Linked DNA regions of Homo sapiens. The protein of the gene in region 3 purifies or fractionates together with the protein of the main gene of each other region. This does not show direct contact. Each region holds a gene or a part of one and is shown on either strand. Other genes may lie near its edges.

Region 1 (3,749 bases), on a different chromosome or scaffold from region 3:
TTAGAGCACACCTGATTTACACAATTACAATTCTAGATACAAACCCAACTGGATCAAATGTGGAGGTACACATGATGGAAACTGCAAACAGCAATACAAATAATTCTGTCTTTCACCGAGAAATATAAATCAACAAATACCACTGCTTATTACCTATTCAAGACGAGTGTACTTAGAGCTTCTCCATCAACATCTTCAGCGATTATGACCAAAGGCTTACGGTGAGCATTGGCAATTTCAAGAGCAGGTACAATGGACTGGATACTAGAAATTTTCTTTTCACTCAACAGAACATAGGCATCCTGGAATTCACATTTCTGACCTGTAAAAATAATGAAGATTTCAAAAATATACAAAAAATGACTGCAATACATTTAAATGAAAAGCGAAACCAAGGTTCCAATACACTTTAAAATTCACCAGTGAGTTGGTTTTCCTCCTTCATTTCTCATATGCATTAACTTTTGGAATATATACATTTATTTTTTAGAGGATGACACCAACTAATACCTATAGTTTGACACATATTAGAAAGTATATTTTAAAAACTTCAGGAGGCCAAAGCAGGCAGATGACTTGAGGCCAGGAATTCAAAACCAGCCTGGCCAACATGGCTAAACCTTGTCTCTATTAAAAAATTCAAAAATTGGCCAGGCACAGAGCCTCATACCTATAATCCCAGCACTTTGGGAGGCCAAGGTGGGTGGATCACCTGAGGTCAGGAGTTAAGAGACCAGCCTGGCCAACATGGTGAAACCCCATCTCTACTAAAAATACAAAAATCAGCCTGGCATGGTGGCGTGTGACTGTAATCCCAGCTACTTGGGAGACTGAGGCAAGAGAATCACTTGAACCCGGAAGGCGGAGGTTGCAGTGAGCAACGCGCCACCACATCATGCCACTGCACTCCAGCCGGGGCAACAGAGAATGAGACTCTGTCTAAAATAATAAAAATAATAATAATTCAGTTATTGATTTGTTCTTACCTTTTGATGTATTAATAAAGTATGGAGAAATATAGCCTCGATCAAACTTCATGCCTTCAATAATTTCTAATTCATCATTCAGTGTTTTTCCATCCTATGAAAAGTCAAAGAATTAGGTATATGGATTTCATTGAACACAAAACATGGAATTACAGGCCAGATTAATAAAAACAGACCCCTCTGGCCATAAGAGATGCAGGGTAGAGTATGAAACAGCCCAGGACATCCAATTACACTTCTGCAAAAAATCCCAAAAGTGCTTATTTGAATAATCATTTAAGTTAGGATGGATTCATTTCATGCAGCAAAGGCTAATTCACATAAAACACAGTAAGTACTTTATTCTATACATGTGCTGAGACTACATATGAAGGAATAAAAAAAGCAGTTTTTAAAACAGAATTTTTCTGTTTGAAAAATTCAGTTTTGATCATCAGATAACTCAAACTTTTGATCATAAGATAACTCAAAATTATCTTTAAAAATACAAACACACTTGCCTTTACTGTGATGACACCCTTTCTTCCAACTTTTTTCATTGCATCAGAGATGATATTGCCAATTTCTTTGTCTCCGTTTGCAGAAATCGTAGCAACCTGAAATAATCCAGTTACTCTTCGAAATTAAAAGGTAAGCCTAGTGTCCTCAGTCAGTTCCCTTACCTTTTCCTAGTAACTTCCAAATTGATACTTCCATCCAGGGGAGAGAAGGGGAATTTACGTTATGGTAGTTTTCATGAAGTACTGGTTCTTTGCTCTTTTCCGATTCATTATTTGACTACATTGTTTTGAAGAATATGATACATAAAACTATTCTTGTAACAAAAAGTTTAAAAATGCTGACTTCATTACAAACTGACAAAACTTATGCACCTTTGACAATGGCTAAGAACATTTTCACAATCATATGAATCCATTTTACAGCCATGTAGAACTAAAATGACAACCACATGTAGAACTAAATGACAACCATTATGGTCATAATTCTTTTCAAAGGTTTTAGCAGTAAGAAACAATGATTCTAATATTGATGATTGGGTAGTATTGTTATTCTGACATTGGTGTGATCAAGGGAAAAAAAAAATCACACATGCCATTAAATTTTTTTTAAAAAACGTGTAACATGTTAAGTCCTTACCTGTGCAATTTCTTCAGGGGTGGTCACAGGTTTAGACTGCTTTTTAAGTTCAGCAATTACAGCATCAACAGCTAACATCACACCTAGTTCAACGATATATGTCATTACAATGTTTATTTCTCTCATGGCTTCTATGTCAAGTAGAAATCTTGAGATTTGTGACAAATATTTTAATGCCTTAACTTAAAAAAAAAAATTTTTTTTTTTTTTGAGACAGGGTCTTGTTCTGCTGCCCAGGCTAGAGTGCAGTAGCACAGATCATGGCTCACTGCAGCCCTGACATCCTGGGCTCAAGGGAGTAGCTGAGACCACAGGCTCAAGCCACCATGCTCAGCTTCTTTTATTTTTGTAGACAAGGTCTCACTATGTTGCCCAAGGTGGTCTTGAACTCCTGGGCTCAAGCAATCCTCCCACCTCAGCTTCCCATGTAGCTGGGACTACAGGCATGTACCTATGCTTGGTCTTTAGTGCCTTAATATTAAATTTACACACAGCTTCTGAGACAGTGCTTCTTAATAACACAGAGTTGCGTGGCATGTACTTAAACAGTAACTTTAGGTTCACACAGTAAATAAAATCTCACAATGCCAAAATTTTGAAAATAGGACTAAAACAAGGTAGATGTGTGTAGTTTCAAAAGTCTCACCACTGAACTCATCCTATGCAAATTCCTAACCCAATCATGCTGTTTCCAATAGGGTCCACGACACTTCTCATGTCCATTAGATGATGCAAAAAAGGACCAAAATGGCTAACACTCCCTTATTTTCAACAAGAAGTACAGTTCTTAAATGATAGGAATCTGTTGTGACTATGCCTCTGCAGGTGTCAATTATCTGAAATCCCCTCAATTTAGTACGTATTATGAACTAACAAAATATTTTTGTTTTACATCAGTCTTAATAGTCCCATTTTGCTCAATTGGGAATAGTGCTAGCTCTCTTGTTTGAGAACTGTTACTTCAAAAAAAATCCAATGCAAGGTGCTGGTAAGTCCTCTTCATAACCTTAATTAATACTTGTTAGTGATTTACAGTAAAACTGCTTTTAGTGAAGTATATTCACTTGGCCCATAAACACTGAAATAGATGAGGTAATGATACATTAGTAATGTAGTAATAAATTAGTATGCCAATTCTGACAAAAAATTACCAATAGCTCCCCCCACCTTCACTTACAAGAGGGTTCCTGGTTTGAACCCTAACATACCCTAGATATACATAGCAATTCTGCTGATAGGAAAACCAAGTCTTAGCACACAGCTAATAAATGACAAACATGGGACTAGAATTTAAGTCTATACTGCCATGAACCTCATGAGGAGGAGCAAATTGTTAATTAAGTTGCACTCTAGTTACAAGCACTAACAAAACACAAACCAATAACATGGTGTGTGCTATTAAGAAAAAATAAACTGAGGAAAACATTACTTTCTGACATTCTGAATGATCCAGTGTATTTAGTCTTACTTTCTACAAAACTAAACTAAAAATTAGCCAGGAATGGTGGTGAGTGCCTGTAGTAGTCCCAGCTACTTGGAGGCTGAGGCAGGAGGATTGCTTGAGCCCAGGAGTTCCAGTGCAGTCCAGCCTGGGCTACAGAGCAAGACCCTGTCTCTAAAAACAAA
Region 2 (3,749 bases), on a different chromosome or scaffold from region 3:
CTCATGGAGCTTATAATGTAGTGCAGGGGTGGTCAAACTCTGTAAAGGACCAGATAGTAAATATCTGGGGCTTTGCGAACCATATGATCTCTGTTACAACTACTCAATTGTGCCATCAAAGCACAAATATAGCCATAGACAATATGTAAAGAAGTAAGCATGGATGTCTTCCAATAAAGTTTTATTCAAACTGAAGTCTGAATTTCATGTAATTTTTACGTGTCACAAAATGTTGTTTTTTACCATTAAAAATATAAAAACAAGCTGGGTGTGGTGGCTCACTCCTGTAATCCTGGCACTTTGGAAGGCCGAGGTGGGAGGATCGCTTTGAGTTCAGGAGTTCGAGACCAGCCTGGGTGACATGGCAAAACCCCATCTCCACAAAAAATGCAAAAATGAACCAGGCGTGGTGGCAGGCACCTGTGGTCCCAGCTACTCCGGAGGCTGAGGCCTGAGGCTCGCTTGAGCCAAGCCAGGAAGCAGAGGTTGCAGTGAGCACCACTGCACTCCAGCCTGGGTGACAGAGCAGGACCCTGTCTCAAAAAACAAAATCAAAACCAAAAACAAAAACCCCAAAACCTCCAAAAAAACAAAAACAGTAAAAGCCATTCTTGTTGGTCATCCAAAACATGCTGGTGGACAGTATTTGGCCTGCAAGCTATAGTTTGCCTACTCCTGGTCTAGTGGGACAGGCATAAAACACAGTGACCTATTAGAAAGCAGACAGCATTTACTTACCAGTGGGAGGGAGGGGAAGTGACCAGTAAGGGCACAGAGGACTCCTGGGATACTGGCCATGTTTTATTTCTTGATCTGGGTGGTGGTTATATGGTTACACCTTGTGATATATTGTCAAGTTGTACACTCATGATTTGTGCACTTTTCTGTATGTTATTATTGAATTTAAAATCTCATTAAAAACGACAACCAGTGTAGTAAGTCATGATGGGATAAGGTCAGATGCTGTGGAATGAGAGGCCTTTAACTCCTTGGAACTTGGGAGGGGACGGGTCAGAGAAAAGGCTTCTCCAAGGAAGTAATATTTGACAAGAGGGCCCATGGGGAAAAGGAAGAGGGGTTAGGCTTATTGGGTCAGCTGTGACTACGGATCCTGTCCTTATTTTTAAAAACATTTTGATCATAGACTTTTTGCATTACTTTTGACCTTTTAAAACGTTGCAGTATTATATTTATCTTGATTACTGAGTGTTTTGGAGCCCCCTTAAATTCTGAACCCGAGGGGAGTACCTCAACTCTGGTCCCGGCTCGGCTGCACGGGGGTCGGACGCTCTGTCCTTAGTACCATACGTAAGCCACTGCCCCGCCCCGCTTTTCTTCACCTATGTAATGGGAAAGGAGGTGAGGTGGGACGAGCTTTCCAGGGTTTAATATTCTCCCTGGCCCGGCAAAGACGGGGATTTGAGGGGTTACATCGGCACAACACCCGGGGTCGAAGAAGGAGGCTGCTGGGCTCCGGGAAGGAGCTCCCTCGCCCCAGACTTCCGCACTCTGGTTATTTCCCAACGGCGGGAAGGCTCGCTTGGAGCCGGACTCGTGATTGGCTAGGACGAAGTCACGTGGGAGGATTCGCAATCAAATGGCAAGGGCGTCTGCGTCATCAGTGAGCGACGAGAGCCTCCCGAGAGGGGCGCGGCTAAGTAAAATAAGCTCCTTTCTTAGTGGCTGTTTCCTTGGGGAGGGACTGAAACAGCGATGGGGATTCGCTCTCTTCCAACCCTAGGCTTCCGGGATTTGGAGGGAAGGTGAGGCCTGGGGAGAAATGTATTAAATCGCGTATACCCCGGATGCTCCGAGGGGCGGGGCTTCGACGGTGGGGCGTAGTTAAGGGCGGGTCTCTCTTTTGGGGGCGGGATTCTCTCGGGAGTCGGGGTGGAGCCGCAAGGCTCCGCTTTCCCGGAGCGCAGGGGGCGGGGTTTGGGGCGGGGCCTCGCTTGTGGGCGGGCCCGGGCAGGAGCGGGCTTGCCCTGCGGAGCAGTAGCTAGGAACAGATCCACTTGCAGGTTGCTGCTCCCAGCCATGGCTTCGCGCTGCTGGCGCTGGTGGGGCTGGTCGGCGTGGCCTCGGACCCGGCTGCCTCCCGCCGGGAGCACCCCGAGTAGGAGCAGGGCGCCTTTGGGGCTGGATGGGAGCGCGGGGAGGCCTGCGAGCGCTGAGTAGGGGTCGGAGCAGAGCTGGGGCAGGGCTGGAGAAGGGTGAGACTGAAGGGGTGTCTTCCTGCTGGCGAGATCCCGGTGGTGTACGGGGGTGGGCGGAGATCTGTGCGTGAGATGTGAGGCTTCTAGGGTTAGAGACGGAGGTCAACAAAGGTGAAAAGGAGAGACTTTGAGATCTACAGGTGTGAGACGGGGTGAATGGAGGATGATACGGAGGTCTGTGGGGCGAGAGGAAAGTCTGAGTCGAAACAGGGATCTGTAGGAATAAGACGGGTCTATATGGGCAATATAGCGTTTTGTGGAGAGAGAGAGGGGTTAGAGGAGGGACACCGTGGGGAGACCCACGGGGGCGAGATTGGGATGATATGGAGGCCGTTGGAAGGATGTGGGATTCTAGCCGATTGGATAGGGAATGAAGTGTTGTTGGGCAGGCCATTGGCAGTGGTGTAGTAGGTTCATGGGTGAGATGTGGGCTCTGGATGAACCCACAGCCTTTGGGGGTTCAGATGAAGTAAGAGACCCTGCAAATGCCAAAGCCTTGAGGAACAAGAGAAGGAGGATGCAGGTGAGGGTGAAGCTTGGGAAGTTCCAGCTTCTGTTGGATATTCAGGTTGGTTTGGGACTGGGGAGAGAAGTTAATTTTGACCTTTTCCCTCTCCTCTGCCTGGCCCCAGGCTTCTGCCACCATTTCTCCACACAGGAGAAGACCCCCCAGATCTGTGTGGTGGGCAGTGGCCCAGCTGGCTTCTACACGGCCCAACACCTGCTAAAGGTAAGCCACTTACTCATAGTCCATCATTCACCTGCTGCTCCAGTCCTAAGGGCAAGCCTCACCCGCTTTGGGTTTTAAGAGCACTCCTGGTTGCCTTATGGGGAAGGGGCTCCCAGCCATCTGGCCTGGACACTTCCCACTTGCTTCCTCACCTACACCTGAGGCTCCCCTCCCCTCCCGTCCTCAGTGTGACAGGGGTGTAAAACGCACATTGGTGGTGAGTGGTCAGTGGCAGGTGGTCAGCTTTGCCTCCCTGGCCAAGCACTCCAGGGGGCTTATGTAGACCTGCAAAATGACTTTGTCCTCCTTCATCTTCCCTCCTCTCTCGTCTATCTTCACTCTATCCCAAACATCCTACATCTCGAGGCTACCCACCTCCTCCGCTTTCTGTAACTTTACCTGCCTTGCCATGCCCTCCTCACCCATAGCTCCAGTCCTCCGTGCCATTCTGTTCTTTCAGCCTGCCCTCTGCCCCTCCCCCTTCCCCTGTGAAGGCCAGGATCTCAAGGCTTTCAGTGTCTGCCTCGGCAGGAAGGGCCCCAAGCCAAGGCTACAGGTTCTACTTGAGACTCCACATCAGACTTTGGGACAGAGTAGAGAGGGGATACCCAGGTTAACTGAGACGTGAGACAGTTGCCTAGCTTTGGAGAGGCTTGGAGTGTCCGTGGAGAGACAAGAGAAAGGATGAATATCTTAATTATACACACACACACAGATGCTTGAAATGTAGGGTGACCAACTGGCCTGGACTGCCCAGGACAAGGGGCTTCAGCGCTAAGCTGGAAGTTCTTGGGAAACTGGGA
Region 3 (3,749 bases):
ACCATGCCCAGCTGCTTTTTGTATTTTTAGTAGAGACTGGGTTTCACCATGTTGGTAAGGCTGGTCTCGAACTTCTGACCTCGTGATCCGCTCGCCTCGGTCTCCCAAAGTGTTGGGATTACAGGCATGAGCCACTGCACCTGGAGCTTTTTTATTGAGTACCTGCACTGATGAATAAGATAGTGCCTCCTTCTAAGCAATTTACAGATTAGTGGGAACCCAGGAGGCGGAGGTTGCAGTGAGCCAAGATCGAGCCATTGCACTCCAGCCTGGGAGATGAGAGTGAAACTGTCTCTCAAAAAAAAAAAGTATTATTATTTAGAAATTGGGTCTTGCTATGTTGCTCAGGCTAGTCTCGAACTCCTAAACTCAAGTTAGCCTCCTTCCTCAGTCTCCCAGTGCTGTAATCCCATACAGGCGTGAGCCACCACACCTAGCCTGTGTCAGCTAGTTTTTTTAAAACAGCTTTACTAAGATATAATTTACATAATCATAAGTTCCACCTATTGTAAGTACACAATTCAAGGATTTTTAGACAATTCAGAGAGTTGAGCAACCATCACACGATCTAACCCATTTTTTCAATGTTTCTGCTGTAGAAACCATTTTATTATTCTAGTACAAAAGTACATGCCAAGCCATTAAAATTGTACAGCAAGTATTAAGGATGCAAAGTGACTCACTGAAAATGTATGTAATGGACTTGCACAGACAACTGCTCTACTGACACAGAAAGAAAGAGAGGGAGGGTGGCTAGAGCCAGTACAGTACAAAGCAATGGTTATCAGCTAGGCCCTAGAGTTAGACTGCTGGGGTTCAGATGCTGGCATCCCTACTTACTTAACTGCTGTCTGGCCTCAGGCATATTACTTGAACTCTCTGAGCCTCAGTTTACTCATCTGAAAGAGAACAGCACCCTACTTTATGGGGTTATGAAGAATAAATGAAATACTATATGCAAGAGGTTCAGTAGAGTCCTGGCACATAGTAAGGACTCAAGAACTATTAGCTGTTTTTACAGTTATCACTGGATGACTATTAAATAGCCTTTCATGAGCCAGACATGGAAGACCACATGCTCTAATTAAATTTATATGAAATTCTAGAGAAGGCAAATCGATGTTGATAGCAGATCAGTGATTGACAGAGGCTAGGGAGCGGAGGTAGGAAATTGACAGCAAAGGGTCACAGAAAACTTTTCAGGATGTTCTATATTATGACTGGGATGCTTTGTAAACACTTGTCACTGAATCACACATTTAACTTGGTGCATTTTTCTGTATGTAAAGTAAATCTGACCTCTCTCCCCCAAACTCTTAAAGATCTAGCTTTTAATTTTCCAGTTATTTTACATGTCAGAAGCAAGGTTCAGTTTCTAAACTCAGCCAACAAATATCTGTTGAGCACCTACGATGTGCAAGACACTGTTCTGGGTGTTGGGGATACAGTCTTGAAGAGGACAGATAGCATCCTACCCCCATGGAGTTTATAGTTCAAGCACGAATTATACACCTATGTTTGGAGTTACAAAATACAGGATGCTATGGGGAGAATACACTGTCCGGGTAGGGGGAAGTAGAGGAGTTCCAATATGTATAAATCTCTGTCCCGCGTTTTTTTCTATTTTTTGAACACAGAAGCAAGCAGAGTCCTTCCACCTACAGTCCAGGTGGGTGGTGTGTCAGAGGCCTCTCGGGGACCAGTGACCGTGACCCAAGGCTGCCCTCAGGCCACACCATCTGCGAGATGCGGTGGCCACCTGGCGAGGGAAAAGGACTGGCACCGGACCAAAGACCAGGTGGATGCTTCCACGGACCCCAGGTGGGGCGCTGCTTTGACCTTGGCTTCGTCATGCCCGCGCTCTCTAGCTTCTTTCCAGGTGTGCCCAGCCACCGCAGAGAACAGGCGGCAGGAAAGCTTAGGAAACCCTCCCAGAGGGCGTGCCAGACCGGGAAACTTTATCTGGGAGGTGACTCCACCCACTTGGGCGGGGCTGCCGCCCGCTGGGGGCCGGGCAAGTGGCCCGGCCAGCGGCGCGGCGTCCGGGGAGGAAATGGATGCTGTGCTGGCCTGCCGGCTCCGGGGGCGGGGAAATCGAGTAGCTGCACTCAGGCCCCGCCCGAGACCCGGAGGGAGCGCCGGGCCGTCCCCTTTTGCCCTCCTTTGCGCTGGGCTGAGCCCAGAGCCGAGAGCAGGAGTCGGCTCTGAGTTCCCTGCTTGGTTTTTGGGTGGCAGCAGCCAGAGGAGGAATATGGCGCTCTTAGGCAGCCGAGCGGAGCTGGAAGCGGACGAGGTACGATCCGATGGGGATTGCGGGCCCGGCCCCTGAAGCCCTGGACAGGAGTCCGGGAGAGAAGAGTGAGCCCGGCTAGGACGGCCGAGGCCCCGCCCCCTTGGTCCCCTCTCTGGGGTGGGCTGGCGGGCGCCGGGTGGGGGCGCCCGGCCTTGGTAGGTCTGTCCCCGCTGGAGCTAGGAGGGTCCCTGCGGCGCGCGGAGCGGACGCAGTGCCGAGGTTCGGAGCGCCGGCCCCGCGAGTCGTGGGGATGGAGGACCCACGTCCTGCCAGCACTTGGATGGGCGTGAGGGCGCGGGACCATAGGACCCGCAGCTCTGAGCTGTTCCGGGCCGGCCCAGCGACGCCTGGGCTTTACGAAGTCTGACCCTGAAGTCCTGGCACTGGCTCTCTGGGTGTTCGTGGAATCATCCCTCGACCTGGGAATCTCACCTTCTATGGAAGTTTCCTGGTGGCAGAACCGAAAGGCTTACGATTGATGAAAAGAGGGGGCAGCCTGAGGAACAATGAGTAGAGGGGTACCTGCCGCGACAGCAGGGCAGGGCTGCCAGGGGCTGGGGCTGGAGGGCTAGAGCCGCAGCCCAGGCTGTGGTGCTTCCCTCTCCCTCCACGGGGCCGGGACACTTCCCCTAGCAGGTCCTCAGAGTCGGTGGTGGCCGGAGGGAAACCACTTTGAGAACCGACTCCGGCCTCCTTTGGTTTCAACTGTGTTTGAGTAATTAGCCACTCCTTCAGTCGTGGCGCGCCCGGGCCTGAGCACCCAGGGGCTAGCGCGCCGGACCTGTTGATTTATTGACTATTCATTTCAGCACCTGGCAACTCCAGAGACAGCGCTCTCCCTGCTCTTGAAGTTGAGACCGAGGCTCCAGCAGCAGCCAGCACCCACAGCTGCTGTTCCTGCCATCTTACCTGACTTGAATTGTGCGAGTCGCTGCCTTTAGAAGGCTTTGGTTTCAAATGATGCAATAGTGGACGATCTGGAGGAGGCGGTTAAGTTTCCCGTCCATCTCTTTAGTGCCAGGAATCTCCTGACAAGGAAGACTATACTTTAAATGTGCTCCGTAAAATAAACAAAAAACAAAAACTGAACTACAGCTCCTCTGCATGACAGAGAGACAAGAGGGCAAGCCGGGCTGTCCAGACCCTTGCTTACAGCCTGTCCCTTGCATTGAGGATCCCAAGACTGTAGAATGAAATATTTGAATCCCGATCTGTTTGTAGGAGATTTGCTGTGCTTAGAACTATGTAATTCTCTAGATTAGGGCATTGTTGAGGCGGTGCTATTATTAATTAACACTGGGATAATAGGTGTAAACTGGGACTGTTTCGGAGATACTTTGACAAATGGTCACCCCAGCTATGCTCACTGCCTACTAGATGAACGGTTGAGATGCATTAGCCGATGAGGAGGGAAGTTAGGTTTCTGTGGGTGAAACTCTGGGTGGAAGTTAGGTTT

What was found.
Region 1: the proteins of TTC39B (region 3) and HSPD1 purify together in Homo sapiens (affinity purification with mass spectrometry; 3 studies listed by BioGRID and IntAct, with this or other methods). This does not show direct contact.
Region 2: the proteins of TTC39B (region 3) and FDXR purify together in Homo sapiens (affinity purification with mass spectrometry; 3 studies listed by BioGRID and IntAct, with this or other methods). This does not show direct contact.

Annotation. Positions count from the first base shown.
Region 1 is NC_000002.12:197,493,171-197,496,919, forward strand, and holds part of HSPD1 (60 kDa heat shock protein, mitochondrial), read right to left. Parts: intron 2,207-3,749; coding exon 2,124-2,206; intron 1,583-2,123; coding exon 1,487-1,582; intron 1,081-1,486; coding exon 987-1,080; intron 323-986; coding exon 154-322; intron 1-153. UniProt on the Homo sapiens protein: Chaperonin implicated in mitochondrial protein import and macromolecular assembly. Together with Hsp10, facilitates the correct folding of imported proteins.
Region 2 is NC_000017.11:74,871,233-74,874,981, reverse strand, and holds the start of FDXR (NADPH:adrenodoxin oxidoreductase, mitochondrial isoform 1 precursor), read left to right. Parts: upstream 1-1,987; 5' UTR 1,988-2,037; coding exon 2,038-2,116; exon of another isoform or gene 2,117-2,213; intron 2,214-2,665; coding exon of another isoform or gene 2,666-2,784; intron 2,785-2,848; coding exon 2,849-2,946; intron 2,947-3,749. UniProt on the Homo sapiens protein: Serves as the first electron transfer protein in all the mitochondrial P450 systems including cholesterol side chain cleavage in all steroidogenic tissues, steroid 11-beta hydroxylation in the adrenal cortex, 25-OH-vitamin D3-24 hydroxylation in the kidney, and sterol C-27 hydroxylation in the liver.
Region 3 is NC_000009.12:15,305,628-15,309,376, reverse strand, and holds the start of TTC39B (tetratricopeptide repeat protein 39B), read left to right. Parts: upstream 1-2,160; 5' UTR 2,161-2,251; coding exon 2,252-2,293; intron 2,294-3,749. UniProt on the Homo sapiens protein: Regulates high density lipoprotein (HDL) cholesterol metabolism by promoting the ubiquitination and degradation of the oxysterols receptors LXR (NR1H2 and NR1H3).